Homo sapiens: one gene and its partners. The protein of the gene in region 1 interacts with the protein of each later gene in a pairwise test. Each region holds a gene or a part of one and is shown on either strand. Other genes may lie near its edges. The genes, in order: ZSCAN22, KCTD19, NEXN and ZSCAN18.

Region 1 (8,005 bases):
AATTTTGGCTCAAGAGTCAAGAGGAGAAACCCTGATGTGGAACTGATCTGGAGACAGAGAGAGAGGGAGGGTCTGTCCTTGTCAGGACCCTGAGCACATGCACCCCTGCAGGCTCTGATCTCTGTGGGGTTGCAGTTCTGTCCCTCACACTCAACACCTTGCGTCTAGGCCTGGATGTGTCCCCTGCAGGCTCTGATCTCTGTGGGGTTGGAGTTCTGTCCCTCACACTCGACACCTTGCGTCTAGGCCTGGATGTGTCCCCTGCAGGCTCTGATCTCTGTGGGGTTGGAGTTCTGTCCCTCACACTCGACACCTTGCGTCTAGGCCTGGATGTGTCCCCTGCAGGCTCTGATCTCTGTGGGGTTGGAGTTCTGTCCCTCACACTCGACACCTTGCGTCTAGGCCTGGATGTGTCCCCTGCAGGCTCTGATCTCTGTGGGGTTGGAGTTCTGTCCCTCACACTCGACACCTTGCGTCTAGGCCTGGATGTGTCCCCTGCAGGCTCTGATCTCTGTGGGGTTGGAGTTCTGTCCCTCACACTCGACACCTTGCGTCTAGGCCTGGATGTGTCCCCTGCAGGCTCTGATCTCTGTGGGGTTGGAGTTCTGTCCCTCACACTCAACGCCTTGCGTCTAGGCCTGGATGTGTCCCCTGCAGGCTCTGATCTCTGTGAGGTTGCGGTTCTGTCCCTCACACTCAACACCTTGCCTCTAGGCCTGGATGTGTCCACAGGTGCTCAGTGAATTCTGGCTGAATGAGGGAATCCATCCAGAAGCCCACGATGGTGAAAATTTCTGCAAGTAGAACCCCAGGTAGAATATGGCTGCTGGGGGTGAGTACATGAGGTACCCATCTGGCCTCTCAAGCCCCTACATTGTAAAGTACTATGAAGGCAGAGTGTGGCGGAGGTGCTCTTGGAGATCAGAGTGTGCATGAGGTAGAGGAATGCTCGCACTGACCTGCCCTGCATGGGTGCAAAGGACACATAATCTGGCACATCTACTGGATGGATTCCAGGGAGGAGGCAGAGACAGGTGGAATACCCACTGCTCAAGTCCACAGTGGGGCTCAGCAGTGCAGAAACTGGACTCAAACCCCAGGTCTACCACCTTAATCAGTCCTGCCCTCATCTGGGACTCAGTCTCCCCATCTGTAAGCCATGGATGCTGTGCCGCTGGCCTTCCAGGGCCACTAACCACTATCAGGCTCTTGTCGTGCTGGGCCCCAAGCACAGTGGGTGACTTCCATCGCCTCATTTCAGCTTCGACCTGCTCTCAGAAGGAGGTACTGCTGTGATTCTGTTGCAGATGGGGAAACTGAAATCCAGCTGAGGGAAGGTGTTGAGTAACTGGTACAGGATCACAGTTAGCTAGTGGCCCAGTTGGGATTTCAGCTCCAGAATGTTCTCCTCCAGGTCCACAGGCAGTCTCCCCTGCTCCCCCAGCCATCTGCTTGGCCCTGTCTCCCCCTTCCTTCCTCTATCCAGAAACATCACACCACCTGCTTTTACCAGAATACACCAGTGCAAATCACACTGCCAGGCCTTTGACCCCACCATTCCCTCTGCATTTTACCCTTTCTCTGAGCTTTGGCCAACCCTGTGGGAGGATGGGGCCACTCCCTCCTTCCTCTCCCTGTCTCTGTGACATCTGCTTGGGCATAGACCAACCTCTGTTCCAGAGAGGCCTGTTTCTCCCAGAGCTGAACAAATTATCCTAACAGTTGCAGTTACCATTTATTTAATCTGTGCCAGGCACCATTTCAGGTGCTGCACGGGTATTGCCTTGTATCTCGCAACACCACTAAGGTGGGCGTTTTTATTACAATCCCCATTTTACCCATGAGTAAACTGAGGCACAAGGGAGTCACATGGCCAGGAAGAGCAGCAGCGGTTGGATCTACTGAGCCTTGATGATGCAGCTGTATCCAGACTCCACATTCCTCCTGCACACTGCACGTTTCCTCCCAGTGTGTGGTATGCCCACCTCCTATCTGTTGCCAATAGGCCAGGCCAAGCCCATCTGAGACGAGCCACCACTCCCTGCTCTGGATTGTCCCAAGGCTGGGTCTTCCCTGCATCCCACTGGACCTCCCTGGGTTGGGATGTTTGTGTGGGTCTCTGTGAGTAACAGTGCCCAGCTGAGCCTGGGGCAGGTCTGACCCACCCAAATCCTGGAGGCCAGCCCAGGGTGGGCATAGAGAAGGTACACAGGGACATCTGGTATTTCCGTCACCCCCAACAGCCACCCCAGGCACCCAGGCCCTCGTCTGGTTTCCTCTGAGAAACAGCCAGTTGCTCACTGTTAGTCCCTGGGATTTGGTTGGCCAAACACAAACATAAGATCCCAACCAGGCCAGTGGGGGCTCAGACCAGGGACCTCTTATTGTTATTACCCCGGGGTTTCTACATTGGTAAGACATAAGCCTGGGGTTCCTGGCTATCTTTAACCCCTTTGGAAAGAGAACCTAAAATAAGAATGAAGCTAACACAGAAAAAACCAACTGAGAAACAGAACAAGAGAGGAAGAAGAGAGTTCTGATGCTGTCAACAGATCTTCTGGATATAGCCGTATCTGCTGCCTCCTTACCCTTCTTTGCTTCAGCCCATTTCAGCTCGCTTTTGGTCACCTGCAACCAAAACACACCTGTCTACAACAGTGTGTGAGAGTTACGGTAAAGTACAAATGTGAGAATGGGTGCATGAGCAACCCCAAACCAGAGCCCTGTGCTCCCATGTTCCTGTCCAGGGTGTATCTCTGGTGTGCCGTGAAGCTGCCCACGGCGCCCCTTTACCTCTCTTGTCCAGCACCTGAGTCAGATCCTCCACCAGCACAGCGGCTTCCTCTCCGCTCTTGGGACTCTGGGCTCCCACCCAGGCTTGGATCTCTGGGGGCAGCGCACCCAGGAACTGCTCCAGCACCAGCAGCTCCAGTATCTGCTCCTTGGAGTGCGCCTCGGGCTGCAGCCACTGACAGCACAGCGCTCGGAGGTGGGCCAGGGCCTCGTGTGGACCAGATGCCTCCTCATAGCGGAAGTGCCGGAAGCGCAGGCGTGCAGCCTCAGAGTGAGCAATGTGGTCATGGCTGGATTCTCCGCCCTGGGAGAGGCTGGCTTCCTCTTCCTCCTCCACCTTCACTTGAAGGAAGCTGTCCTCTTCCCACGGCACTGGGCTCAGGGAGTGCTTGGGGATGGCCATCGGGCAGCAGTGCTCAGTGAGACACAGGATGCCGGAGCCTTGGAACTGGGCCTGCAGGAATGTCAGAGCTTCAGCATCACATGGAACCTGGGCCCTGCCTCATGCCTACAGAGCAGGGAAAACACAGGCTTGTGGCCCGTGAGATGTGAAAGACTCTCACAAAGACATAGACAATCCTCATAATTAGGACAGCACCCACTTGGTGCTGAGCACTGTTCTAAGCTACTACTGCTTGCATGTAGACTCATTTAAAACTTACAACAAACACCATCCTGGCTAACATGGTGAAACCCCGTCTCTACTAAAAATACAAAACAAATTAGCCAGACGTGGTGGCGGGCACCTGTGGTCCCAGCTACTCAGGAGGCTGAGGCAGGAGAATGGCGTGAACCCGGGAGGCGGAGCTTGCAGTGAGCCGAGACTACGCCACTGCACTCCAGCCTGCGCAACAGAACAAGACTCTGTCTCAAAACAAAAACAAACAAACAAAAAACTTACAACAAACTCAGGAGGTGGGACTTTCTACCTATTTTATGGATGGAAAAACAGACACTCAGGAGGAAAATATTTGCCCAAAGTCCCTCAGCTAGTGAAGGGTTAACAGAGAGCTAAGCTACAAACCCACGCAAACCTACAGCCAGCCTGTTTAAGGCGTGCTCCTCCCCAACAGAGCCAAGTCTTTCTCCCTCTGTTCCCCAGGTAGCCACATGGTCATTCTCTCACTTTACTTGCTAATTATTTTGTAGTGTTTGAGATTGATACATAATTGACTTTCGCCTTTCCTCTTTTCTAATGCACATATTTAAGGCTATAAATTTCTCTCTAAACACAGCTTTAGCTATACATCACAAGTTTGATATGTTGTATCTTCATTATCATTTAGTTAAAAATATTTTCTAATTTCTGTTACAATTTCTACCTTACTCATTAATTATTTTTTAAAATTTATTTTATTTTTTTGAGACGGAGTCTCCCTCTGTCGCCCAGGCTGGAGGGCAGTGACGCTATCTCGGCTCACTGCAACTCCGCCTCCCGGGTTCAAGCAATCCTCCTGCCTCAGCCTCCCAAGTAGCTGGAACTACAGGTGTGCACCACCATGTGAGGCTAATTTTTGTATTTTTAGTGGAGACGGGGTTTTGCCATGTTGGCGGGGCTGGTCTCGAACTCCTGACCTCAAGCGATCTGCCTGCCTCGGCCCCACAGAGTGCTGGGATTACAAGCATGAGTCACCATGCCCAGTCCCATTGGTTATTTATTTAAAACTCTCCTGCTTCATTGCCAAACAACTGGGGGTTTTCTAGTTGTCTTTTTATTACTGATGTCTAGATTAAGTCTGTTGTGGTCAGAAAACATGCTACAATGGATTTCGATCATTTAAAATTTGCTGAAACTTGGTTTGTGACCCAGTGTATGGTTAATTTTGGTTAATGTTCCATGAATACTTGAAAATAATGCAAAGCTGTCTTAGCTATGACACCAAAAGCATAAGTAACAAAAGAAAAAATAAATAAACTGGACTTTATCAAAATTAAAAGCTTTTGTGATTTGAAGGACCACATCAAGAAAGTAAAAAAGCAGCCCACAGAGTGGGAGAAAATATTTGCAAATCATATATTTGATAAGGGACCTGTATCTAGAACAACTCCATAGTAAAAAGATGAATAATACAATTTTAAAATGAGCAAAGAATGTGACTAGACATTTCTCCAAGGAAGATACACAAATGGGCAATAAATACATGAAAAGATGCTTAACATCACTAGCTACCAGGGAACTGCAAATGAAAACCACAATGAGATAGCACTTCACACCTGCTGGGATGCCTATAATCAGATAACATGTGTAGGCAAGGATATGGAGAAACTGTAATCCTCATATGCTGCTGCTGGGAATGTAAGATGGGATAGCCACTGTGGGAAGTACAGTCTGGGAGTTCCTCAAAAGCTTAAACAGAGTTACCCCATGACCTAGCAATTCTACTCCTACGTATAGACCCAAGAGAAATGAGTATATGTCCTCACAAAACTTTATACATAAATGTGCATAACAGCATTACTCATAACAGCAAAAAAGGAGAAACAATCCAAATGTCCACCTGATGAATGGATAAAATGCTGTATATACCTATAATGGAACACTATTCACCATAAACAGAAATGAAGTACTGATTAATGCTACAACATGGATGAACCTTGAAAACATGATGCTAAGTAAAAGAAGAAAGACACGGCAGGGCACGGTGGCTCACACCTGTGATCCCAGCACTTTGGGAGGCCGAGGTGGGTAGATCACCTGAGGTCAGGAGTTCAAGACCAGCCTGGCCAACACAGTGAAACCCCGTCTCTACTAAAAAATACAAAAATTAGCTGGGTGTGGTGGCAGGCACCTGTAATCCCAACTACTCAGGAGGCTGAGGCAGGAGAATCTCTTGAACTTGGGAGGCAGAGGTTGCAGTGAGCCGAGAGTACACCACTGCACTACAGCCTTGGCGACAGAGGTAGACTCCATCTCAAAAAAAAAAAAAAAAAAAAAAAGCATATTAGTGTTTGTCAGAGGCTGAAGAGAGACAAAAATGAGAGTGGTTGCTAATAGGTTTGGGAATTTCTTTTGGGGATGATAAAAATGTTCTGGAGGCCAGGCGCGGTGGCTCACGCCTGTAATCCCAGCACTCTGGGAGACCGAGGCGAGTAGATCACGAGGTCAGGAGTTCAAGACCAGCCTGACCAATATGGAGAAACCCCATCTATACTAAAAATACAAAATCAGCCGGGCGTGGTGGTGCATGCCTGTAATCCCAGCTACTTGGGAGGCTGAGGCAGAAGAAACCCTTTAACCTGGAAGGTGGAGGCTGCAGTAAGCCGAGATTCTGCCATTGCACTCCAGCCTGGGCAACAAGAGTGAAACTCCATCTCAAAAAATAAAATAAAATAAAAATACAGCTTTTAAAAAAATAATGTTGGCCAGGCACGGTGGCTCATGCCTGTAATCCCAACACTTTGGGAGGCCAAGCTGGGCCGATCACAAGGTCAAGAGATCGAGACCATCCTGGCCAACATGATTAAACCCCGTCTCTATTAAAAATACAAAAAAATTAGCTGGGCGTGGTGGCGTGTGCCTGTAGTCCCAGCTACTTAGGAGGCTGAGGCAGGAGAATCTCTTGAACCCGGGAGGTGGAGATTGCAGTGAGCCGAGATCACGCCACTGCACTCCAGCCTGGCAACAGAGACTCCATCTCAAAATAATAATAATAATAATAATAATAATAATAATAATAATAATAATAACGTCAGCTGGACGCGGTGGCTCACACCTGTAATCCCAGCACTTTGGGAGGCTGAGGCAGGTGGATCACAAGGTCAGGAATTCAAGACCAGCCTGGCCAGCATGGCGAAACCCCATCTCTACTAAAAATATGAAAACTAGACAGGCGTGGCAGCGGGGGCCTGTAATCCCAGCTACTTGGGAGGCTGAGACAGGAGAATTGCTTGAACCCGGGAGGTGGAGGTTGCAGTGAGCAGAGATTGTGCCACTGCACTCCAGCCTGGCCGACAGAGTGAGATTCTGTCTCAAAAAAAAAAAAAAAAAAAGTGCATTTGATAATTGTTGGGTGTTCTCTCCCTTATTTAAGTCAGGCCTCTACACAAAAGACGCCTTATCAGTAAGTCTCTGTGCTTCTACACTGCTTTATTTGCTCTTTACCACCTGATGTGTGATACACGTATGTGGTTACTTGTTTATTATTTACTTGTCCCTGTTGGAGTATCAGCACATTAAGGGCAGGGGTTTTTGTTTAGGTCTTTGCTTTATCCCCAGTGTCTACAGCATTGCTGGGCACATACATCAATAATAATACTTTTGTTCAGCACAGCCCCATTAGGTGCCTACTCTGTGCCCAGCACTGTACTAGGAATGCAAATACGGGGAAGGCATGGGTGCTGGGCTCAATGGCCTCAACGGAAGGACAGCGACCAACACATGATAAGATAATTATGATGATGGATATGGGTATAGTGTGCAACAGGAATAAAAGAAAATGGGAACAGACAGTCAGTGGGAACCTACCGGCTACCAGGCCACACTAGCCTTTGGCATCTGTTATCCCATTCAAGCCTTAGCTCCACCCTGTGAGTCAGTATTACCACTCCCATTTTCCAAGTTGGGGAAAGTCAGCTGCTAGAGTCATCTGGTCAGTAGGAACAAAGCTAGTGTTTGAGCTCAGGCTATCTGCGATCTTTCCTCCACACTCAAAGCCTTTCCAAATTCTAGAACTGTGAGCACTGAATGCTGGTCAGGGACAGCAAAAAACTACTTTCATGTACTATTGGTGAGGGCAATCAATTAGAATATCTTTGGCAAACAATTTGGCAGTATGTTGTAAGAGCTTTAAAATGACTGTGCTCTCTGCCTCAATATTAATTCTACTTCTCAGAATCTAGCCCCATTTCTAGATGGGGGTGCTACCGACATTCAGAGGGAGATAATACTTTCTTTTTGAAAAAATTCTTTTTTTCTCCAGACGGAGTCTTGCTTTGTCGCCCAGGCTGGAGTGCAGTGGCGCAATCTTGGCTCACTGCAAGCTCTGCCTCCTGGGTTCACGCCATTCTCCTGCCTCAGCCTCCCGAGTAGCTGGGACTACAGGCACCCACCACCACACCCAGCTATTTTTTTTTGTACTTTTAGTAGAGACGGGGTTTCACCGTATTAGCCACGATGGTCTCGATCTCCTGACCTCATGTTCCGCCCACCTCAGCCTCCCAAATTGCTGGGATTACAGGCATGAGCCACTGCGCCTGGCCGCATGTAGGCAAT
Region 2 (8,005 bases), on another chromosome or scaffold:
CAGTTCCCACGATGGAAATAAAATAACCTCCTCCCTGAAGGCTGCAACTCAGGTCTCCTTTGTTGCTAAGGGAGGGGTCAGCCTTCGTGATTTCATCTTACTGCGTCCTTGCTTCACTTACTTAAATTCAGATGGTAAAAACAGTTTGCCAAGTCTCAGGAAGTTGAGAATGTGTCGGAACATCTGGCCATCCCCGTGGATGAGCAGGGTTTGTCCATATGTGATCCAGTACACTCTCTGAGGGTTGGACAGCAGTTCTGGATACTGGAGGGGGTTGGACACCGGACTCAGTCTCAGAGGCTAGGTCTTTGCGAAGGGGCAGGTCAATCTTCTCTCACTCCCCTTTTCCAACTACACTAGAGCAGAGGCTTTGAGATTCCATTTCCCTGTCTTGTCAGTCACAAGGAACCATGGTGGGGAGCAGAGCTTCCAGGGAGAAGCACATCATCCCTGCTTCAACTTTTGATGGCCCCTAGACCACCCTCTCAAGGCATTTGGAAGCCCACCGTACCTCCTTCTCAGTCCAGGTCCCTCAGAGCTGGCCCCCTCCCTATGCAAACTCTGGAGGGCCTTCCCAGCAGGCCACTCGGTCCACTTGTGCTCTGTTTTGTTTTGTTTTTTGAGGCAGAGTCACACTCCGTCACCCAGGTTGGAGTGCAGTGGCGCGATCTCAGCTCACTGCAACTTCTATCTCCTGGGTTCAAACAATTCTGGTGCTTCAGCCTCCCAAGTATCTGGGATTACAGGCACGTGCCATCACACCCAGCTAATTTTTGTATTTTTAGTACAGACGGGGTTTCACCATGTTGGTCAGGCTGGTCTTGAACTCCTGATCTCGTGATCTGCCCACCTCAGCCTCCCAAAGTGCTGGGATTACAGGCATGAGCCACCGTGCCTGGCGGGAAAGCCTTTGTTCTAAGCAAGTGCTGGAAGCTGTGTGAGGGCCAGGTGATGGCCCCCAGAGCAGCTCAGGTGGTGATGCCAGATGGGGAGCAGGGCAGCCGAGGCCGTCAGTACCTTCAGCAGTGTCTGCAGGGTGGTTGCGTACCAGTGGCTTCCAACATACACTTTGATGATCTGTTGTGGGGAATACACAGTGATCTCTGCCGTCCACTCATCTATGGGAATCCAGGAGATAGAACACATCATCATATGGCCAGAAGGGAAAGCAGGTAGGGCCCTTTGGTTAGTAGTGTATTTCACGTTAAGTCTCAATATCTTTCCTCAGTCATATTGTGTTGCCTAGTCTGAGAAGCAGCAGAAATCCCTGACATAAACCTTGCTTGCTGCAAGGTTTCCTGGGTGGTGAGGCGGGAAAGGGCACTGCCCCTCTTCACCTGACCCTCCTCCCTCAGGAAAGCTGGGTTGATGACCCTGTCCACCTACAATGCCAGCTGCCTCCGGTTTCTGGTTGGGTGTGTCCTGAGTGTGTAGCTTTTCATGTGGCCACTCAGACTGAAGCTAGGAATCTCTCTCTGTGTGTTTATGTTCGTGGTTTGGCAAATGTCATGGAGCCAACTCTCATCAAATCCCTGTCACTTTTATGAGACTAAGCCTCTAGGCATGTCTGGAGAATGGGGGCTGTATGCTGGAAAGATGAACCCATAACCCTTTTCCTGGAGATGACTATATGTAGGCCTTGTTCTGATGTTTGGGAAGCAGTTTCTAATGAGCTCTGTAATGAATGAAGGGTATATAACTAGATTATATAACCAAGAGATAAGATGTATAGAACTAGACCGTGAACTCCAGGAAGAAAGGGACTAAGTCTGTGTTGCTTACTTCTGTGCCGCCAGTGTCTACTGCTGTCCTGGTATATGACCGGTACTCAATAAATGTTGGATGCTGCTAAATGATAGTAATACAGCTTAAACTTTGTCCCCCAAATTTTTGGTAATAAGAAGTTATAGGCAGCTGGTGAAAACAACATTAGCTTTGGACTCAGTCAAACCCCAGCTTGACCACTGTGTAACTTGAGTGAGTTTTCTTCTCTGAACCTATTTTTTGGCTGTTAAATGGACCCAGGGACAGCTCTGTTTAACAGAGGAGGCTCCTCCCTGCATGGCTGTGAGAAGCACAGCAAGTCAGCTCCCAGGGTCAAGGCAGGCCTGCCCTGGGGGTCCTGCGTGGCCCCAGACTGGGTAACAGCCCTGTCTGCTGCTGGAGACGAATTGTGGGCTTGGAGGTGAGGAGGGAGCACTTAATATGAAAGTTTCCCTTTTGTAAAAATCCAAAATATTGGCCTGGCTTTCCCCTCCTCCTCCATCTACAGTTCCTCGTCCTGGCCACATCATCTATTCCCTCCAATCTCCCAGATACTCCCCTGATGCTAAATTCAAACCTAGAAGCTTTCTCACTTACTGAGCACATCCATGGGTGCCAAAGTCCTTGGCTCCAGATGAGTCTTCAAAGCAACTTTGATTGGCTCGTAGGTGATGTCCCTTTTGTCTAGGAAGGCACAGAGCTCATATACCTCGGAAATGGTCTCTGTCAGGGGCAGCCGGCAAGTCCCCAGCCAGTTCCTGCCCAGAGGAAAGGTCTGTCATGAAGAACATCAGCATTGTACCCCAAGAGAGTCGAGCCTGTAAACTTTCCATGCCTAGGATGCCTTGCCGCAACACTGGCTTAAATCAGGCATCATTAACATCGTTTCCTTGTATTTTTTTTTTAGATGGAGTCTCACTCTGTCGCCAGGCTGAAGTGCAGTGACGCAATCTTGGCTCACTGCAACCTTTGCCTCCCAGGTTCAAGCAATTCTCCTGCCTCAGCCTCCCAAGTAGCTGGAACTACAGGCACCCGCCACCACGCCTGGCTAATTTTTTGTATTTTTAGTAGAGACGGGGTTTCTTTTTTTTTTTTTTTCTTTTTTTGAGACGGAGTCTAACTCTGTCACCCAGGCTGGAGTGCAGTGGCGCGATCTCGGCTCACTGCAAGCTCCGCCTCCAGGGTTCATGCCATTCTCCTACCTCAGCCTCCTGAGTAGCTGGGACTACAGGCACCCGCCACCATGCCCGGCTAATTTTTTGTATTTTTAGTAGAGACGGGGTTTCACCATGTAGGCCAGGATGGTCTCAATCTCTTGACCTCATGATCTGCTTGCCTTGGCCTCCCAAAGTGCTGGGATTACAGGTGTGAGCCACCGCGCCCAGCCCGTTTCCTTGTTTTAACTGGAAATCTGTTTAACCTTGTAGGAGAGTAAGCCTGGACAACCGGTCACATTTTTGGAGCTGAGCTTGACTTATTTCAGCAAAGCCCTCTAAATGGACTAATTTCATGTCTCCAGGCCGTGTTTCCGGTTCCAGGGCCAGCCCAGGGCCCAGTCGCTCCCTTCTTGCCTCATACGCATCTGCCCAAGACATCTCAGTCACTGTGTTGCAGCCTGCCACGGTCTTGGAAAAAGGCTGGGGTCTAAACATCAACCCCCTTCTCCAAACCCTCCCTTCCAAGGCACTTGTCTTTGCCCTCTGTGACATCAGGGTGGACATCTCTGAAAGATATGGACTTTATGGGCTAAAAGAGCCCAAAACAACAATATTGGGAAAAGACAGCATTCAGGGTCAGCTGACCCTCTCCCAGGGGCTCCAGAAAACCCACTTCTACCTTCCATTTTGGTGCCAGTCTGTTTTGTGACCCTCAGAGAGTTGCTCTGCTGTTCTGCACCTCAGTTTGCCCATCTACAAAACAGGGTTGGATTCCTTGCCCCTGCACTAATGAGGACATCCTGAGCTCATCCCATAAGGCAAAGGCTGAGGATCAGCACCTCTGGGAAGCCTGGCCTGGCCTGGCCTGCCCTGCCCTGCTTCTAAGGGGGCTCACCCCTGGCTCTGGCCATTCTGTGTGTCCAGTGAGCCTCCCAAGAGTGGCGGAGGACCTTTGTAGAGGGGTCTGCACAGGGAGGTACCCAGCTCCCTGACTGTGGCCTGGTCACCTCAGACCTAGCACAGGGCTAGAACCAGGGAAATGGACTGCAGAGGACAGAAATAGGAAATGGTCTGAAGCCTTTGAACCTTGGCAACCCTTGTACCTTGGCACTAGCCCTCTCCTTTGAGGCCCTAACCTGGTGGTAGTGTGGCGGTGCTGGTGATGGTAATGGCTAAAATGATGGGCTGGCCCCAAGGACACACTTCACCTCTGGCTAGTGGGAAAGGCCCCAGGTTATTCCTAGAGGGAAGGGCAGAGCCAAGGGTGATGGGACTCAGTGTGCCCTAAGGAGGACCTCACTTGACGTGCTGAAAGAGGACGCCATTCCCTGTGATGTACAGTCGGCTTCCGTCTAGCGTGCTCTCGATGCGAAGCTGGCCCAGCGCAGAGTCCGGGTACTTGACCAGCAGACCCAGGGCCATTGTGTAGAGCGGTTTCACGGACTCCAGGCTGGCTGTGCGGGCCCCCTTCCCGGGGCTCAGGGGAGAACAGGTGGTCGGGGAACAGCCACCTGTGTCAGAGAGAAAGGGGTGACTCCTAGGCCCCCCATGGTCATAGCTGGATTGGAGGCTTTGGGGCTCGGTTCCTACTGCTGCCTCCATTGTACCGAGGAGGCTCAGAGGAAGGATATTTCTTTGCACAGTCCAAATCAAGATCTTCTCAAAATTAGTATAATTTTTTTGTATACTCAGGCTTAGAAGTCATAACTATTTGTTGGGAGGTGAGTTGGGAGTGGGGGGATTCATTTGCTGTATCACTAGCATCTGAATTTCCTAAGTTTCAGGAAAGCAGCCATCTGGCCCTAGCCTCTGCAGGAGTCTTCATTAGTTCCAAGCTCTTCTGTAACCATCCAAAGGTAAAGAACGGCAACCATGGCCTGGAAACTCAATGTGTGTTACAGGCTTCCTGGATTCACAGCCCCTGTTGCTGGCTCTCCTGGGCAGAATTTCCCCCAGAGACATACTGTGTGGCATTATTTTCAGGGTGGGTATTTGGGTTGCTGGTTTATGGATGGGACCTTTTTCTCCTATAGTGGGCCTAGGGTACAGTCCAGAGAATACAGTTATCACAGCCTTCAGGACCCTGCTCCCGTGGCAACAATGTGCCAGTGGGCACACTGCTGGGGGATGTTCGTGGATCATCTCCAATCCTCAGAGCAACCCTGCAAGAGGGGATAGTGCTATCATCATTTCACGTTGAAGAACCTGCCCTGAGAGGCTAATGAAGTATCTTGCCCTAAACTGCAAAGCTAGGCAGGGGCAGGGCTAGGATTTGAGGTCAGCTCTGTCCAGCTCCAAGGTTACCACAGCTGTTTCCCTTATTGTGATGCTTTGTAGAAAGCTAAAGCCACCCTTTGTGTTTGAGGAGTGCTGCCAGCTCCCAGAGCCTGGCTGTCAACACACTTCCTCCATCTTTGCATTGCTCTGTGGAGCAGGGACTACGCTACCATCTCACAATGATCTATGTTCTCTGAGGAGTAGAAGGCTTTGAGGGAAGGGGCTGAACTCACACCATCTTAAGCGGATTATAAGGCCCTGGGACAGGGTCCTGAGACCTGCTGGAGCATGCCACTCCCCACAAAGAGGATGGGTTTCTTTTTTGAGAAGGAGTCTCACTCTGTTGCCCAGGCTTGAGTGCAGTGGCATGATCTCGGCTCACTGCAGCCTCCACCTCCTGGGTTCAAGCGATTCTCCTGCCTCAGCTTCCCAAGTAGTGGGATTACAGGTGCGTGCCACCATGCCCGGCTAATTTTTGTATTTTAGTAGAGATGGGGTTTCACCATGTTGGCCAGGCTGGTCTCGAACTCCTGACCTCAAGTGAGCCACTTGCGTTGGCCTCTCAAAATGCTGAGATTACAGGCATCAGCCACCAGCGCCTGGCCAAGAGGATGGGTTTCTATTTGTCTGGGAGAAGGCTGGGAAATCTATGCCTGAAGATAAGGAAAGGCCTGATTGCCATGGGATAAATGTCTGGTGATGTCCAGGCCAAACTTCCCATGTGCAATGCAGTTCTACACATTCTCGGGATGGTGGCTGAAGCCATGCTCAGGTAGCTTGCGCCCTATAACATGCACAGTAGCTTCCATGGAGGTGGAGTTGGGAAATGGAATGATGAACAGCCCTGAGGAAACCATGAGGGGAAGAACAAGCTGGAATGAGGTAGGGCTGGGAGCACGAAGGCCTAGGCTGGACAGGGGTCAGCAAGCGTCAGGAATAGGCAGAAACAGGCACAGCAGCCGGGGGTTTCCACGTGAGGTGACGAGGGAATTTGGGGGTGGATGAGATGCATGAAGCACTGAGCATTTCCCACACCTCCAACCGTGCCTGGAAGAGGAAGGATGGGAGTGGCTGGTGGGTGCTCTTAGTCCCCACCACTTTCACAAGCAGGGCAGACCTCCCCTGCCCCTGAGAAGCCTGCCTTCAGGCCCAGGACATTCCAGCCTGGCTCCCCACCCAGGCTGGGCTCCTCCTGATCCAGGCTGGGCTGGGCTTTCTACACCCCTGGCTGGTTGCCCACTCCCCACCCTCAGTGGGAAGGCTGAGCCGGCAGGGCAGCACACAGGGTTTCAGGCTGTGAATCCTCTTCTTGGATTCAGAGTCAGCCAGAAAACCCAATCCTCTCACTAACCCCCAAAGCCCGAAGTGATTGTGGGAGGGAAGATTGTTCTTGGCTTTTCCAGGTCAAGCCAAGACTGTCGAGGGGGAGCCAAGGTTTCCTGGCGACATACCCATGTTCATCCGGTACCACCTTACGGCTTCAGTGAGTGCAGGGATTTCCAGAATTTCCACTTCTGCTTCTAATACATCAATGTTGGAGAAATTATCCGGTAGTAAAATCTTCTGTGAGCGAAGAAAATTCACTTGAAAAACAAAGGGGAACACAGTGAGTTAATGAGGCTATTTCTGGTTTAGCTGTAGGTCCTGGTTTTGGCAGGTTTCTGGTGCTGTAACTTATCCTAGGTTCTCCTTGTTCTGAAACAACTTATCAACATACCTTATTAGATTAGCTTTGAGTGTGTGGTTTTCAAGGCGAAAGACCCCACATTACTTTGTTTTCCTGTGTCTGAGGCCGTGGGTGTGGCCTCCCGTGGCTTGGCCTGGGGCTCCCAAGCCAGGCCCTCCTGGTGGGCACACTGGCCCTGAGACTTACCCTGTGAGTTTTGACCCAAGAGCAGGTCATTCCAAAAGAGGGAGTTGTCTTGCTGCTTAGAGAGGAGGGGCCCGGCCGAGCCTGGGCTGGCGGGTGGCACTTGCAGTTTGTCCCTGCCTGGACTGCAGTATGGGAGGCAGAGATGGAGCCAACGCTAATGTCCTGTGTGAATCAACTTAGAGATACAGAAGCACATCACAGACAACTTTCTAGGTGACTATGAATATGAATGACTGGGGTTCCAGACATTTGGGCTCCTAGTGTAACTTGAGTGTTTACTGCCCTATCTATCTAGACAGCAGTAGCATCTTGGGGTCAAAGAGATCATTCAGTTCACATCCCAAACAGAGCTCATCCTGGGGCAGTAGGGGGAGAGAGGCTCTCTCTGTCAAAGGTGGAAAATCTCATCCTTCCTTAGGCCACTACCTCAAGTGGACAATTCTGCTATGACTCTGGGGGAACCTGTCACCATCCACCCTCCTTCCCTTTTATTCTGAGTTTGCTGACATTAAGAGCAGGTAGCACCATCCTTTGAAACAATCTGGATTCCTCATTTTATGGTGAGAGGAACTGAGGCCGGAAGACCAGCTGGATACATAAGGGCAGAGTAAGAAGAGAAGCCGACTGGCAACCAGCTGAGCTCCCTGCCCTTCACACCAACTCCTGTGGTCCCTAGCACTTTCCAGTGCCTGACACTTTTACAGCCAGGCCATCCCAAAACAAATAGGGAATAAAACAGCCCTGAGTCTAGTGAGATTCTAATGCTGGAATCTGCTTGCTTCCTGGAAGGCTCTGTCATGCTTCCGCTACCTCTGCCCAGGGAAGCTCCTGAGGCCCTGAGCACCAAGCTGGGCCTCTGTGGGACATGTGATGGGGAGGGGTGAATGGGCCCTATCAGCCCGCCCCCCACCCCACCCCGGACAGAGCAATCACC
Region 3 (8,190 bases), on another chromosome or scaffold:
GCAGCCTGGGGTTTGGGGGCCCCTGCCCTAAATCATCATCTGGAATTTCGAGTTTTCCTTACTTTTAAAGGAGAGAAAAGGTACATTAAAAAGCACTGACTGCAGAATCTCCCTAGATTTGTACAATTTTGTACCCAATCTTTTACATTTGTCTTCTCCACACCTAGCTTGGTGGTAATTTTTGTAAGCTATTTGCCTTTATCAAGTCTTTTCAAAGCATTCAACTCAGCTTTTATAAAAAACTATAACTTTATTTTTGCTTTTATAATTTCTTTCTTTATTTTTTTTTTTGGCACGATCTGGGCTCACTGCAGCCTCCGCCTCCTGGGTTCAAGCGATTCTCCTGCCTCAGCCTCCTGAGTAGCTGGGATTACAGGCACGTACCACCATGCCCGGCTAATTTTTGTATTTTTAGTAGACGGGGTTTCGCCATCATGGCCAGGCTGGTCTCGAACTCCTGACCTCAGGTGATCTGCCTACCTTGGCCTCCCACAGCACTGGGCTTACAGGTGTGAGCCACCATGTCTGGCCTATAATTTCATTTTTTAAATGTTTACTTTGTATAATTTCAAAACCGTGCAACTGACATAGAACAAACCTAATCACTCGTGATAAGTATACAAGTAATGCTTATACAAATGGGCAGATCTTGGATTTTTAGTAATCTCAAACTTAGCATGTCAAAACTGAGCTCCTTACCACCCCTGCCTAAACCTCCTCTTCCCACAACCTTCCCTATCTGAGTAAATTACAACTCCATTCTTCCAGATCAAAGGCCCAAAACCTCCTTTCCTCACACCTCACATTCAGTTACAAAAAAAAAAAAAAAAAAAATCCTACCATTTCTACCTAAAAAGGCAACAAGGAAAAAAAAATATGCCAGGTATTTCTCACTACCTTCACAACTATCACTTTGGCCCAAATCCCCATTCCTCATTCCGATTATTGTGGAAGCCTCCTAATTAATTGATCTCCCTGCTTCTTCTCTTGCCTCATTTGGTGTATGTGCAGCACTTAAGCTAGAGAGAGTAAACATGTCAGATCATGTCACTATGTTGTTCAAAACCTACCAGAGACCACCCATGTTAGAGTAAAAACCAAAATCTTTACAATGCTGTACAAAAAGAGGCTGGGCACAATGGCTCATGCCTATTATCCCTACTCTCTGGGAGGCCGAAGTGGGAGGATGCTTAAGCCCAGGAGTTTGAGACCAACCCAGGCAACATAATAAGACCCCATTTCTACAAAAACTAAAAAATTAGCCAGGTGTGTTGTTGCATGCCTGTAGTCCCAGCTACTCAGAGAAGCTGTGGCAGGAGGATCGCTTGAGCCCAGAAGTTAGAGGCTGCGGTGAGCTGTGATTCCACCACTGCACTCCAGCCTGGGTCTCTAAAAAAAAAAAAAAAGGCCAGGCATGTTGGTTTACGCCTGTAATCCCAACACTTTAGGAGGCCGAGGTAGACGGATCACCTGAGGTCAGGAGTTTGAGACCAGCCTGGCCAATATGGTGAAACCCCATCTCTACTAAAAATACAGAAATTAGCCGGGCATGGTGACAGGTGCCTGTAATCCCAGCTACTCGGGAGTCTGAGGGAAGAGAATCGCTTGAACCCAGGAGGCGGAGGTTGCAGTGAGCAGAGTTTATGCTACTGCACTCCAGCCTGGGCGACAGAGCGAGACTTATTCTCAAACAAACAAAATCCTACGTAGTCTTGTCTCCTGCTCCCCACTGCACCTCCTATTACCTCACCCTTCACCTACTCAGCTTCACTCGCACAAGCCTCCTGGTTCTTCCTAGAACATGTCAGATAGAATCCTTCTCTGGGCCTTTGTATCTATCCCTGGACCACTCTTCCTCCAAATATTTGCTTCTCCAGATATTTACATAGCCTACTGCCTCACTCTCCTCAAGGCTTTTACTCATATGAGGCTTTCCTTAGCCACTCTATCTAAAATTACAACATCTACTCAGCCTGCCTCCAGCATTCTCTACTTCCCTGCTCTGGTATTATCCATATTGCCATATTACATGTCACTAAATACTACATAGTTCACTTATTTGCTTATTGTCTGCCTTCTTTCACTAGAATGTATGTTCCATAATGGCAGGGATTTTTCCTTTATCACTGCTGTATCCTTAGCATATAGAACTGAATATCTGTTGAATGAATGAATGATGAATTGGTGGGAAAATAAGCAGGCCTTGCATGCTGTGAGTAGCTATCAGTGTTCTACAGAGAGAATGGAGAGCTTTGTTTAATCTGGTGAATCTATTGGGTGGATATAAAAATAAAAAATTGTTAAGTTTCTAGTTATTTATTTATTTATTATTTTTTGAGACAGAGTCTCACTCTGTCGCCCAGACTGGAGTGCAGTGGCATGATCTCGGCTCACTGCAACCTCCACCTCCTGGTTTCAAGCAATTCTCCTGCCTCAGCCTCCCGAGTAGCTGGGACTACAGGTGCACGCTACCACACTCAGCTAATTTTTATATTTTTAGTAGAGACAGGATTTCGCCATGTTGGCCAGGCTGGTCTCGAACTCCTGACCTCAAGTGATCCACCCGCTTCAGCCTCCCAAAGTGCTGGGATTACAGGCGTGAGACACCATGCTCAGCCAACTCACTTCTTTAAATCACAGAAATAAATATGTAATTATAAATTGATATGTATAGGGGCAGGGCACAGTGGCTCACACCTGTAATCCCAGCACTTTGCGAGGCCGAGGTGGGTGGATCACTTGAGGGCAGGAGTTCAAGACCAGCCTGGCCAACATGGTGAAACCCCATCTCCACTAAAAATACAAAAAGTAGCCAGGTGTGGTGGCACGCGCCTGTAATCCCAGCTACTTTTGAGTCAGGAGAATCGATTGAACTGGGGAAGCGGAGGTTGCAGTGAGCTGAGATCGTGCCACTGCACTCCAGCCTGGGCGACGGAGCGAGACTACATCTCCAAATAAATAAATAAATAAATAAATAAATAAATAAATAAATAAGCAAATAAATAGGAATATATATATATAGGGAAGAGAAAGGTGGGATGAAAGGTGAGGTGCAAGGTGGGGAGAAAGGTGGGATGCAAGGAAGCCTTCTCCGAGGAAGCAGCATTTAAGAAGAGATCGGGAGGATATGTTGAAGTTAGGTGAAGGGGAAAGTGGGAGAAAGGATTTCATGCAGGGAACAACTTATACAAAGGCCCTGCAGCCAGACTGCCCATAGAAAGTTTCATGAACTGAAGAAGGCCAAGGTGATGGCATCAAAGAGAGCAAGGGCACAAGCAAGACTACCAAGACCACCTATCACTATCCGTAGTTCGGTACATTTAAATAATTTTAATTACCAATTTTGAACTTTTCTGTAATCGAGGAATGAATGGCTTACCCTCCTTAGAAAAGTTTCCATCCTGAGTAAATACTGTGGGGATGGGACTGGGGAACAGAGTTATATTTGAGTAGAAGGCCTTTTGTGTGTACGGGTGTGAGAGAGAGAGAAACAGAGAGAGAGAGGGAGTTTCACTCTTGTTGCTCACGCTGGAGTGCAATGGCGCCATCTCAGCTCACAGCAACCTCAGCCTCCCGGGTTCAAGCGAAGTGGGTTCTTCAACCTCAGCCTCCCAGGTAGCTGGGATCACAGGCGCACGTCACCACGCCCGGCTAATTTTTTGCATTTTTAGTAGAGATAGAGTTTCACCATGTTGGCCAGGCTGGTCGCAAACTCCTGACCTCAGGTGATCCACCCGCCTTGGCCTCCCAAAGTGCTGGGATTACAGGCAGGAGCCACCGCGCCCGGCCTTTTTTTTTTTTTTTGGAGACAGAGTCTCATTTTGTCACCCAGACTGGAGTGCAGTGGGATGATCTCTGCTCACTGCAACCTCCGCCTCCTGGCTTCAAGTGATTCTCCTGCCTCAGCCTCCTGAGTAACTCAGATTACAGGTGTGTGCCTCCACACTAGGCTAATTTTTTGTATTTTTAGTAAAGACGGCCTTTTGCCATGTTGGTCAGGCTGGTCTTGAATTCCTGACCTCAAGTGATCCACCCGCCTCGGCCTCCCAAAGTGCGGGGATCACAGGCATGAGCCACCGCGCCCAGCCCAGAAGGCCTTTTCAACATCCCTGAAATATAACCTGAGCACCGCTGTCTGCTTAGGGCCTGAAGGTGGAAGTGGTTACCTTTATTCTTTATCTGGATGTCATTTCGATTTTTTTTTCAAGTGCAGTGAAGAATTAAAGATCTCGTCCACCAAAAATACTCCGAGTGTGCATTTCGGGTTTTAATATGGTATTGTCTGATGGGTTTGACAGGCTGGCGGTCCAAGTTGAAAAAGGTCTGTGGGTGTCTAATAGTCAAAGATGCCTTTATGAAGCTTTAGAAAGACCAGATATGGTTTGCCTTCAATTAAGAAAAAGGTGGAATATAAAGATATTTGTACTTATATAAATATATTCCTTCTTTTCTTCTCCTCCTCCTCCTCTGCCTTCAACTTTCTTCTTCTTCTTCTTCTTCTTCTTCTTCTTCTTCTTCTTCTTCTTCTTCTTCTTCTTCTTCTTCTTCTTCTTCTTCTTCTTCTTCTTCTTCTTCTTTTTTAACTCTCCTTTTAGAGTTAAAGACTGGAGCTAAGAACAGGGGAGCAATAGACAGATGAAGTGTTCCCGGATTGCTGCCCCACGCTCTTTGTAATAAAGGAAAACTTGGCCAAAGGTCAATGCTTAGGGTAGTAGAAGATATGTAGTGGCTTGGCTTCTTGACTGGAAACTAGGACGGGTAGAGTAGCTGAGAGAAGTGGGCCCCAGAGCAAACTGGTTGCGGGTAGGGGGAGCCAGCTTCAGCCCGGTAATGAAGCCCATTTCAGCCTCATTCCTTTCCCATGGCGGAGGCAGCCTTCCTTCCCCAGGCCTGGCTGGAGGTGGAGGCAGGCCCAAAGTTAGGGGGTCAGCTCGCGCACCTAGGGCCGGGAGACAGACAAATTCTGGCGGAAAGTTGGCAGCCACGGTCCCCCTCCCCTGCTTTTCTCCTCAACTCTCCACCCCCACTCCGGGTGATAACGGCGGAGGTGGGGGGTTGGGGGAACTGGCCTTGTGTTTTGGAACAGCTGCAGCCGGCGCTGGGCCCGCCTGGAATGCGGGAACAGGCTGCACACCAGGACTTTTATGGAAACTTGCTGCTGGAGACGGCGGCGGCGGCGGCGGCAGCGGCAGCCAGAGGACTCCCAGCGGCTGGAGCAGAAGTGTTAGCGGCCAGAGCTCCCAGACCCCTACCCACAGCCAGGCGGGACGCGCACAGTCCCTCCACGCGGAAAGAAGTACCTTCGCCGGTCACCGGCTCCTGCAGGGTGAGAAGAGTTGGGGGAACGTGGGCTGGGGGGAGTGGAGACGGAGGTGTCGGGTCCCCTGGTGGGGGCGGGGGCGGGAACGGCGGCTGCAGAGAGGCGCTCGGGGTCTGCGGCTTCTGGCCGTGCTCCGCTGCAGCTCCGGAGGGCGCCGGGCGCCATACAGCTGTGGTCCGCGCTGGCCCCGGCCCGGGCGAACCCTGCCTTGGAGCCGCATCCTGCGGGCTCGGCGGGGTGCCTACCAGGGGCTGCCCCAGGGTCTGAAAGTGTCGGCCGGCCTTGGGCTTCTGGTTGCAATGTCTTTGCCCTGCTCCCCTGCGCCTTGTCGGCTGAGTTTCGGGTGCGTTCCCTACTGTAGGGAGGGAGCCCTCTGTGAGCGGAGTGGGTGCCGATCCCTCGGCTGAACCCTTGGGGTCCTTAGGGAAGTTCAGTGCCGTCCCCCACCACTTGCCCCAGCCGCGGTCTCCGTCTCTGCCAGCAGTGCCAGTTAAGAAATCCTTTCTGATCGGTCTCTGTGGAAGATGGGGAGAAATATGATTTAACAGCCTATTACTCCCCCCCCACACCCCCGCATATCCCCCCACTCCTGTCTCCAACCCTTTTTTTTTTTTTTTTCGTGATTCTGCCCGAGGTGGGATGCTGGGGGTTGAGCAACTAGGGCTGGAAGTTTACGAAGTTTACGTAGTTTAAGTGAGTGAAGAATGTAGTCACCTCTTGAGAACTCCCTTTGCCTATATGCTTTTGAAAACGCCAAACCATTCCAGCTGTTTGTAAATTGTGAAACGTTCTACAAATGCATTAGCATTGGCATTTATAAAGAAAATGACGAAGTTGAGAGGTTATAGTTGGTTACTGCAGTGACTTAGAGATGCTCATTTTATAGTTATTAAAGCACAACGTGAACCAAGTTGGCAGAGAGATAACAAGGTAAAAATAGCATAAGGATATGTCCTAACAAAATGTCCTTGGTGAAGACACAGGTAGAGAAAAGAAGCCATAATAAAGAAATTAGTTCCCTGACCAAAACAACGGGAATATCATTCATCGTTAAATTTTGTTAATGAATTCATGTAGCAGCGGCCCATTGGCCTTCGAGTCACAACATAACTATGTCTTAGGTAATGTGATTAAATAAACTTAAGTATTTATACTTAAGTTCATATCTTAGTCACACGTTATTTATATCTTAGTCACACGTTATTGAGTGGACCACATAATTTCCCCCGCTAAACATTATCCTTTACAGGTTAAACTGCTGCAGTTAGAAAACTTTGTCTCAAATTCTTTTGAGTTTGGGGTATTGTTAAGAAAAAATGCATAATTAATCAAATGAGAGAAAGGTTTTTTGGGGGGAGGTATAATTTGTATAAGTAAACTTTGATTAACCAATGTAGCTGTTTAAGTTTCTTCTTCCTTACAATTAACACCGTATTTTTGCAGATATTTTATATTTTGACTAATGCTTCTGAGGAACAATTTAAAGAAAAATGCATGCAATTATGTAGTTTATCTGCAATTCCCTTAAAGAATTCTAAGCTAAAACCACAACAAAATTATTTTAAATCCAGTTTTCCTCATCATAGTTACAATGTAATCCAGTTTTAATAAAAGATTCATATTTTAAAATCCATTTTCAATTGAAATGTAATGAATAGCAATTGTTCCTGCTCACCTTAAAATGGAATTTGTGCTATTTTTGAAAATTTGACATGTAAGGCTGATCATTGTCAAAATGTATGTCATCTTGAGATGACTATATTTAGCATCAACAAAGGAATGCATTATCTAGGTTTTTGAACAGTCTTTTTCCCCTGAAATTTCACTTGAAGTATTTAGGTTAGGGTTTCATTTTTGAGCAGAATAAAAACTAAATATGCATATTTGGAAGACATTAATTGGGGATTCAGATTGCTTAGAATCTGAGCGGCCTATAATGACATACTTCATTTATTAAAAAAAATACCTGTTATCTTTGAAATACCCTAAAAGACAAAAAAAAGGGGGATTATTTAAATATGAGAGTTGTGCACACCTAAAAGAAAGAAAATAATGCAGTGAATGTGGAAAAGTATGTAACAGACAGGTAAAAGTCTAAACGTTTTTATAGAAGAGAGGACTGTTATTTTATAGTTATGTAGGCCACACACACACAGAACATCTTGGTAGTTTATAATTTGGAGAGAAAATGATTTATAACATTCTTAACAATTTCACATATTTCTGTTCTTATTTAATCAATCTGCGGTCCATATCACCTGTGTAGTTTCTTTCATGTTCTCTTTCTGGGTTTATAATTGCATAGTTACATATTATATACATTTGAAATGGCTACATTTTCCTTTATTATTTAAATATTCAGTGTATAGTTTGGCTTAATTTATAGTAGTTTACTTTCTATACTCCAGGGTGGGTGGATTTGTACCCAGAAATCCACCTTAAATTTTAGTTTAATTTGTATTATAATGTTAATACACCATGTTATATTTATGGTTAAAAATTATGGAGAATGGAAAAAGGGGCTCTTGTAATCTGACACTCTTACTGTTAGGATTTTGATGTATTTCCTTTAAGTCTTTTTCCCATGCATAGAACTCTTTCTTTTTGCATTGACATATCTCAATAAAACAACATGTGAAAGCATCCCATGCAGTGTCTGCCATCCAGTAAGTGCTCAACAGGTGATTCTTTTTCTTCCTCCTTTATTTCCTTCTTGACATCTCTTCCTTTTTACTCTTAGATTAGAAGACAAGCAGATTGGGGCTCCCTATATGAGGTTTCAAGGTTGGTGAAATTCACTTCTCACCGTCCATCCTGGGCCTCTTCCCTGTCTTTTCTTCCCCTTCACTCTTTCTGGCCAAAATAGGCCT
Region 4 (5,881 bases), 250 kb from region 1:
ATGGTCCATGCTATCATTGGGACTTCCTCCTGTAGTTTCTCTGAATGTTAGACATTGTTTATTAAATTAGTCTTCAGAGATTATGCAGATCATCCATACTTACCACAAATAGTGAAGAAACATCAATACATAAAGAAAAGAATCTCCCAACCCCCGACCATGAACCCTCTGAAAATAAAGGGTCTCAAGTGTCCTGATGCACGTCCCCTCATGTCTCCCTGCACATCACACATGCATAATCAGGGCCTGGGGTCGGGCTCTGTGTGTGTGGTGTGCTGTGTCTGAGTGCTTGCTGTTCGAGGGGTGGGTCCCCCAGGCTGTGGTTGGGTCTGGTTCTTTAGTTGCCCAGCATCGCGTGCTCAGCCCATCCCCATCCTAGAGGTGGGCTCTCTGCCCCTTGGAGTGAAGCTGCCCTGACACCTCCTGACTTGTGTGCCCATATGTGAGGCTCTGGGCACTGTGGGTGGACTCCTCAGGACCACTGGGCAAGTGGTGTGTGAGTTCGACATTTCACATAAAATAGAAACTTCCATGTGGTTTTCCAGAAGTTTTGTGGCTGTTCATTACCAGCACGGAAGGTGCCCACTGGCCTGGATACAGCCCAGCACTATGTGGTGTTGCTTTTTAGGATTTCCACGAAGGCCAGGCACAGTGCCTCATGCCTGTAATCGCAGCACTTTGGGAAGCCAAGGCGGGCAGATCACTTGAGCCCGGGCATTCGAGACCAGCCTGGGCAACATAGGGAGACCCCATCTCTACAAAAAATACAAAAATTAGCCGGGTCCGCACTTTTAGTCCCAGCTACTTGGGAGGCTGAGGTGGGAGGATTGCTTGAGTCCAGGAGGTGGAGGTTGCAGTGAGCCAAGATCATGCCACTGCACTCCAGCCTAGGTGACAGAGCAAGACCCTGTCTTTAAAAAACAAACAAACCAAAAAAAAAAAAGATTTCCATGAATCCAGTGGACTTGAATGGGCATCTCTGGGGCCACCCAAGCCCTGTGGCCACCGCGCTGCTTTGTAAATCAGGGAAAGGTGTAGTGTCCGTTGAGCCTTGGGTGCTGCTGTCACAGAAGCACACTGGGGCCTGTGTGGGAGGCAGCGGGGGCTCCTTGACCCTTGAGGGCACCTGGCCACAGGGAGCTCATTGCCTCAGCTCTGCCTCTCCTTCTCCCCAGCCTGGCTTTCTCCGGACCCCCTGTTTCTGGAACAGAGGAGGGTCAGAGAAGCAAAGACCGAAGAGGACGGCCCTGCCAACACCGAGCAGGTGGGTGGGCACGAGCAGGTGGGTGAGGGGCCTTGGCCTCAGCTTAGAGGCATCCCCCTCCCCATCACCAGTGCTCAGCAGAGGGCTGTGGCCCCAAACGTCCACAGCGCTGAGGCCCAGAACCCACCCTGGTGGGAGCGTGAGGGCGGAATCTTTGTGGTGCGAAGGGGGCTGCCTCCTGCAGTGCACCTGGGTTAGAGTCCCTGGCCAGGGCTGGCTCCTAGCCTGCTCCTGTGGCTGTGGGGCTGCGGCGGGTCCTCCCTTCTCTAGGGCAGGTGGGAGGTCTCAGCCACGACTAATGTTTCAGAAGCTGAAGTCCTTTCCAGAGGACCCTCAGCACCTGGGGGAGTGGGGCCACCTGGACCCTGCCGAGGAGAACCTGAAGAGCTACCGGAAGCTGCTCCTGTGGGGTGAGAGTCGCCTGCCTCGGGGTCACGCCCCACTCCCCATCCCCTTCCGCAGGGGTTGGTGCAGGAGACTGTGACCCCAGGGACTTTGGCTGGGACACTGTGATGTCTTACAGGATTTGAACTTGCACGTGTTGGAGCTTGAATTTATTCGCTGAAGCCCCCACCCTTTCTGATCTAAACATCTGAGTTCTGCCCAGGCCCTGCCTGTAGGACTGAAGCCTCGGAATTTGGAAAGGCCTCCTGGCCCCAAGGCGCCCACATTGCCACCCTCCTTGCCAGATACAGGGCCTCACCTGCATGGCCTGATCAAGGGTCTCCTCTTTTGTAGACGTTCTTGCCCCAGAAACCCTCCTTTTAGGGAGGCCCCCCGACTCAGACTCCTGAGCAATTTTTGTCAATGTCTTTCTTTAGCTTTGCTTTCTCTGAGTCCTGCCTCCGCCTGCCCCGTTGCCCTTCCAGCCTCGCCTTCTTCTTTGCTCCACTGTCCAGGGGCCTAACAGGGAGGTGGCCTTGGTGGGGGTCCCAGTACAGAGAAGAGGAGGTGGGCTGCAGCCTGCCCTGGCTGGCCCACGACACACAACACCCATCAGCCACTCTGTGTTGATGCCTTTTATTTCTTTGGTTTTTAACCCCACTCAGGGTATCAGCTTTCCCAGCCTGACGCTGCCTCCAGGCTGGACACTGAGGAACTCCGGTTGGTGGAAAGAGATCCACAAGGAAGCAGCCTCCCAGGTGAGGTTGGGTTGAATTGGTGTTAGGGCCGGGTGGGGTTTGCTTTTTCTTCAGAGGCTGAGGGGGCCCCTCCCAGCGCCATCAGCCCCAGCAAAGACCTCAGCATTGACTGCTTCACCATTCTCCCACCACCGTGTCTGAGTGAGGCAGGAATCCAGTTACGTCCATGGTCTCTTGCTGCATGACAGACCACCCCAAGACTTGGTCGGTGGAAACGGCAGTGGTGTTAGTTGCCAGGATCTGTGTATGACTGGTCCCGGGGGTGGCCGTTCTGCCCCATTGGAGGCTCTGTGCCAGCACACCAACAAGAACACCTAGAGGCGGACTTGGGCTGGAGGGCCCTGGGTGCCTGTCGCCAGGGGGCTTGTCGCTGGGGGGTTTGGCCTTAGCTATTGACCCCACTCTCTTCGCTGGCAGCCGGGCCCCTCCCTCCAGGAGGGTGCGCTCTGAGCAGGCTCTCCTTGCATCGTGCATCTTGTGGCCAAGCTAGTGGCCAGGTGGAGACCTCCAAAGGCGCGGTTTCCAGAACCCGGGCTCAGTGGGGCTGTCCTTCCTGTCCTGTCGGTGGCCTCCGTTGTTGGAGGCCTCCAGGTCCCACATCTGCAGCAGCAGGCGCGGGGCATGCGCTGCAGGGCTGCCTGGGAGGGACAGCGCTGCTTCCAAACAGCCGTGAGCCCCGCGGGGATCCAGAGCCCGGAGCCCTGTGCGCTGTTCCGGCAGCTGAGGCTCGGCTGGGTCCTCCTCTCCCTGGCCCTGGGCGGGGCGCTCACGCTAGGGCTCTGACCTTGTTCCAGAAGGCGGGAGGCGGCAGGAGAGCGCTGGGTGCGCCTGCGAGGAGGCCGCCCCCGCGGGGGTGCTGCCTGAGCTGCCTACGGAGGCGCCCCCTGGGGACGCCCTTGCCGATCCCCCGTCGGGCACCACTGAGGAGGAGGAAGAGCAGCCTGGGAAGGCCCCGGACCCGCAGGACCCCCAGGACGCGGAGTCCGACTCTGCCACCGGATCGCAGAGGCAGTCCGTCATCCAGCAGCCTGCCCCGGACAGGGGCACGGCGAAACTGGGAACCAAGAGGCCGCACCCCGAGGATGGGGACGGGCAGAGCCTCGAGGGCGTCTCTAGCTCCGGCGACAGCGCAGGGCTGGAGGCCGGGCAGGGCCCTGGGGCTGACGAGCCGGGCTTGTCCCGCGGGAAGCCCTATGCCTGCGGCGAGTGCGGGGAGGCCTTCGCGTGGCTCTCGCACCTGATGGAGCACCACAGCAGCCATGGCGGCCGGAAGCGCTACGCCTGTCAGGGCTGCTGGAAGACCTTCCACTTCAGCCTGGCCCTAGCCGAGCACCAGAAGACCCACGAGAAGGAGAAAAGCTACGCGCTGGGGGGCGCCCGGGGCCCCCAACCGTCCACCCGCGAAGCCCAGGCGGGGGCTAGGGCGGGCGGTCCCCCAGAGAGCGTGGAGGGCGAGGCTCCCCCCGCACCCCCAGAGGCGCAGAGGTGAGCCGCTGTGCTGTCCCGTTCCGGAGGGGCCGCTTTGCCGGCCGTGAATCCCAGACGAGGCATTGGGCCTTTCCACGCCCCTGGGTGGCGGCTTCCTGTGGTGTTTGTGGACGTCCTCTGCCTGTGCCCTGAATCCGCTCCTGAGGCTAAGCGCTCCCAACGAGAAGGGTCCACGGGAAGCCCTCACCTCTGTAAACACACCCTGGGCCAGCGCTCGCATCCGAGGGGAGCCGCCGGATGTGGAAGAAGACTCGGCTTTCCTGCAGCCATTTAGTGCCGCCCCATGCTAGGTTATTTGACATTGTGCAGTGTAGAGTTGCCTTAAAGTGCGTGATCTGCCAGTGCTTTCTTCAAGTCACCCTTGCCCCGATTCCTCCTGTTTGCGCTCCCCAGGGTTGCTCAAGTGGAAATTTTGTCAGCTGTTTAGCCTTTTCGTACTTGGCGTGATGTCAACTTCACTTCTAATCTGCAAAAGCAGAAGCTGTTTCCTAGTTTACCTCGCGTGTGTTTACCTATATGGAGTAGCTCGCAGAGATCACAGAAATGCTTGCAGCCTAAGGCAGGGTTTTCAGACCGTGGGTCCCAGCCCATTTAGTAAAATGGGAAATCAATTAGCAAGTGGTCACCAGCATTACACAGCAATGAAGCAGAATAAAGTAGGCCAGAATGCATCATGTAGTAAAGGCAAATACTGTTTTGTGAAACTTTTCACCCATACATCTAAATGTGAGAACTGGTTGCAATGTAAGACATTTCTTGCTGGGAAGTTGTGAGCAAAATAAGTTGAAAACACTAATAAAGATCTGTCTGTCTGAGCAAAGGAGACTAAACTCCTTGGGCTACATAAGGTGATCTTTTCATTGATTGCATTTATTCTCAAGATTACAGTATCATTCCCATTGCCTGCGCATAAACTTAACTGCTCCCTGCGCATAAACTTAACTGCTCCCTGTAGATACAGAAACTGGTGCCTCTTTTTCTGTCACTGTGTTTGAGCAGGCAGTCTGTTGTAATGACCCCCAAATCACAGAGACTTAGTAAGTACTTATTCATGGGCCGGGCGTGGTGGCTCACACCTGTAATCCCAACACTTTGTGAGGCTGAGGCAGGCAGATCATGGAGTTTGAGACCAGCCTGGCCAACATGGTGAAACCCTGTCTCTACTAAAAATACAAAAAATTAGCCAGCTGTGGTGATGCGTGCCTGTAATCCCAGCTACTCAGGAGGCTGAGGCAGGAGAATTGCTTGAACCTGGGAGGCGGAGGTTGCAGTAAGCCAAGATTGTGCCACTGCACCCTAGCCTAGGTGACAGTGCAAGACTCCATCTCAGAAAAAAAAGAAAAAAAGAAAAAAAAATTATTTACTAACAGTCGATTGTCCTGTGTTGGTGTTGCTGTTGCTTATATATTGGTTTGCACTCTGCTCCATACAGTGATTCAGGGATCCAGGCCCCATCTCTGTTGTAGCTCTGCTCTTCACTGTACCCTTGGAGCATGTAGGGAAGGCCGAACCTGTTCACCTGGGAGATGACACACATCACTTCTACTCACAAATCCTTGGAGAGAAATGATCCCATGGCTCCAGTCACTTGAAAGGGCCTGTGAACTGTCACCTGGAGTGCCTGTCTCCGCAACAGTTACAAGCTTAGTTCCCCTCTTAGCCTATCCATCTTAAGCCCCAAGCTGAGTGTGGTTCTGGTAAGAAAAAGGCTAAAATGGTCTGGGCACGGTGGCTCACGCCTGTAATCCCAGCACTTTGAGAGGCAGAGGCAGGTGGATCACCTGAGGTCAGGAGTTCAAAAGCAGCCTGGCCAACATGGGGAAACTCCATCTCTACTAAAAATACAAAAAATGAGCCAGGCGTGGTGGCAGGCACCTGTGATTTCAGCTACTCAGGAGGCTGAGGCAGGGGAATCGCTTGAACCGGGGAGGCGGAAGTTGCAGTGAGCCAAGATCACACCACTGCACTCCTGCCTGGGGGACAGAGC

The links.
Region 2: the proteins of ZSCAN22 (region 1) and KCTD19 interact in binary tests that used the Homo sapiens proteins (3 or more experiments, as listed by UniProt).
Region 3: the proteins of ZSCAN22 (region 1) and NEXN interact in binary tests that used the Homo sapiens proteins (3 or more experiments, as listed by UniProt).
Region 4: the proteins of ZSCAN22 (region 1) and ZSCAN18 interact in binary tests that used the Homo sapiens proteins (3 or more experiments, as listed by UniProt).

The regions. Positions count from the first base shown.
Region 1 is NC_000019.10:58,329,994-58,337,998, reverse strand, and holds part of ZSCAN22 (zinc finger and SCAN domain-containing protein 22), read right to left. Parts: intron 3,312-8,005; exon of another isoform or gene 3,248-3,311; 5' UTR 3,197-3,247; coding exon 2,794-3,196; intron 1-2,793. UniProt on the Homo sapiens protein: May be involved in transcriptional regulation.
Region 2 is NC_000016.10:67,295,142-67,303,146, forward strand, and holds part of KCTD19 (BTB/POZ domain-containing protein KCTD19), read right to left. Parts: coding exon 8,005-8,005; intron 6,782-8,004; coding exon 6,650-6,781; intron 4,433-6,649; coding exon 4,222-4,432; intron 2,523-4,221; coding exon 2,362-2,522; intron 1,119-2,361; coding exon 1,018-1,118; intron 265-1,017; coding exon 122-264; intron 1-121. UniProt on the Homo sapiens protein: Transcription regulator which is essential for male fertility and for the completion of meiotic prophase in spermatocytes. Regulates progression of the pachytene stage of meiotic prophase and promotes the transcriptional activation activity ZNF541.
Region 3 is NC_000001.11:77,883,434-77,891,623, forward strand, and holds the start of NEXN (nexilin), read left to right. Parts: upstream 1-5,190; 5' UTR 5,191-5,326; exon of another isoform or gene 5,327-5,835; intron 5,836-6,034; exon of another isoform or gene 6,035-6,106; intron 6,107-8,190. UniProt on the Homo sapiens protein: Involved in regulating cell migration through association with the actin cytoskeleton. Has an essential role in the maintenance of Z line and sarcomere integrity.
Region 4 is NC_000019.10:58,082,699-58,088,579, reverse strand, and holds the end of ZSCAN18 (zinc finger and SCAN domain-containing protein 18), read left to right. Parts: intron 1-1,175; coding exon 1,176-1,264; intron 1,265-1,571; coding exon 1,572-1,674; intron 1,675-2,313; coding exon 2,314-2,406; intron 2,407-3,200; coding exon 3,201-3,895; 3' UTR 3,896-4,724; downstream 4,725-5,881. UniProt on the Homo sapiens protein: May be involved in transcriptional regulation.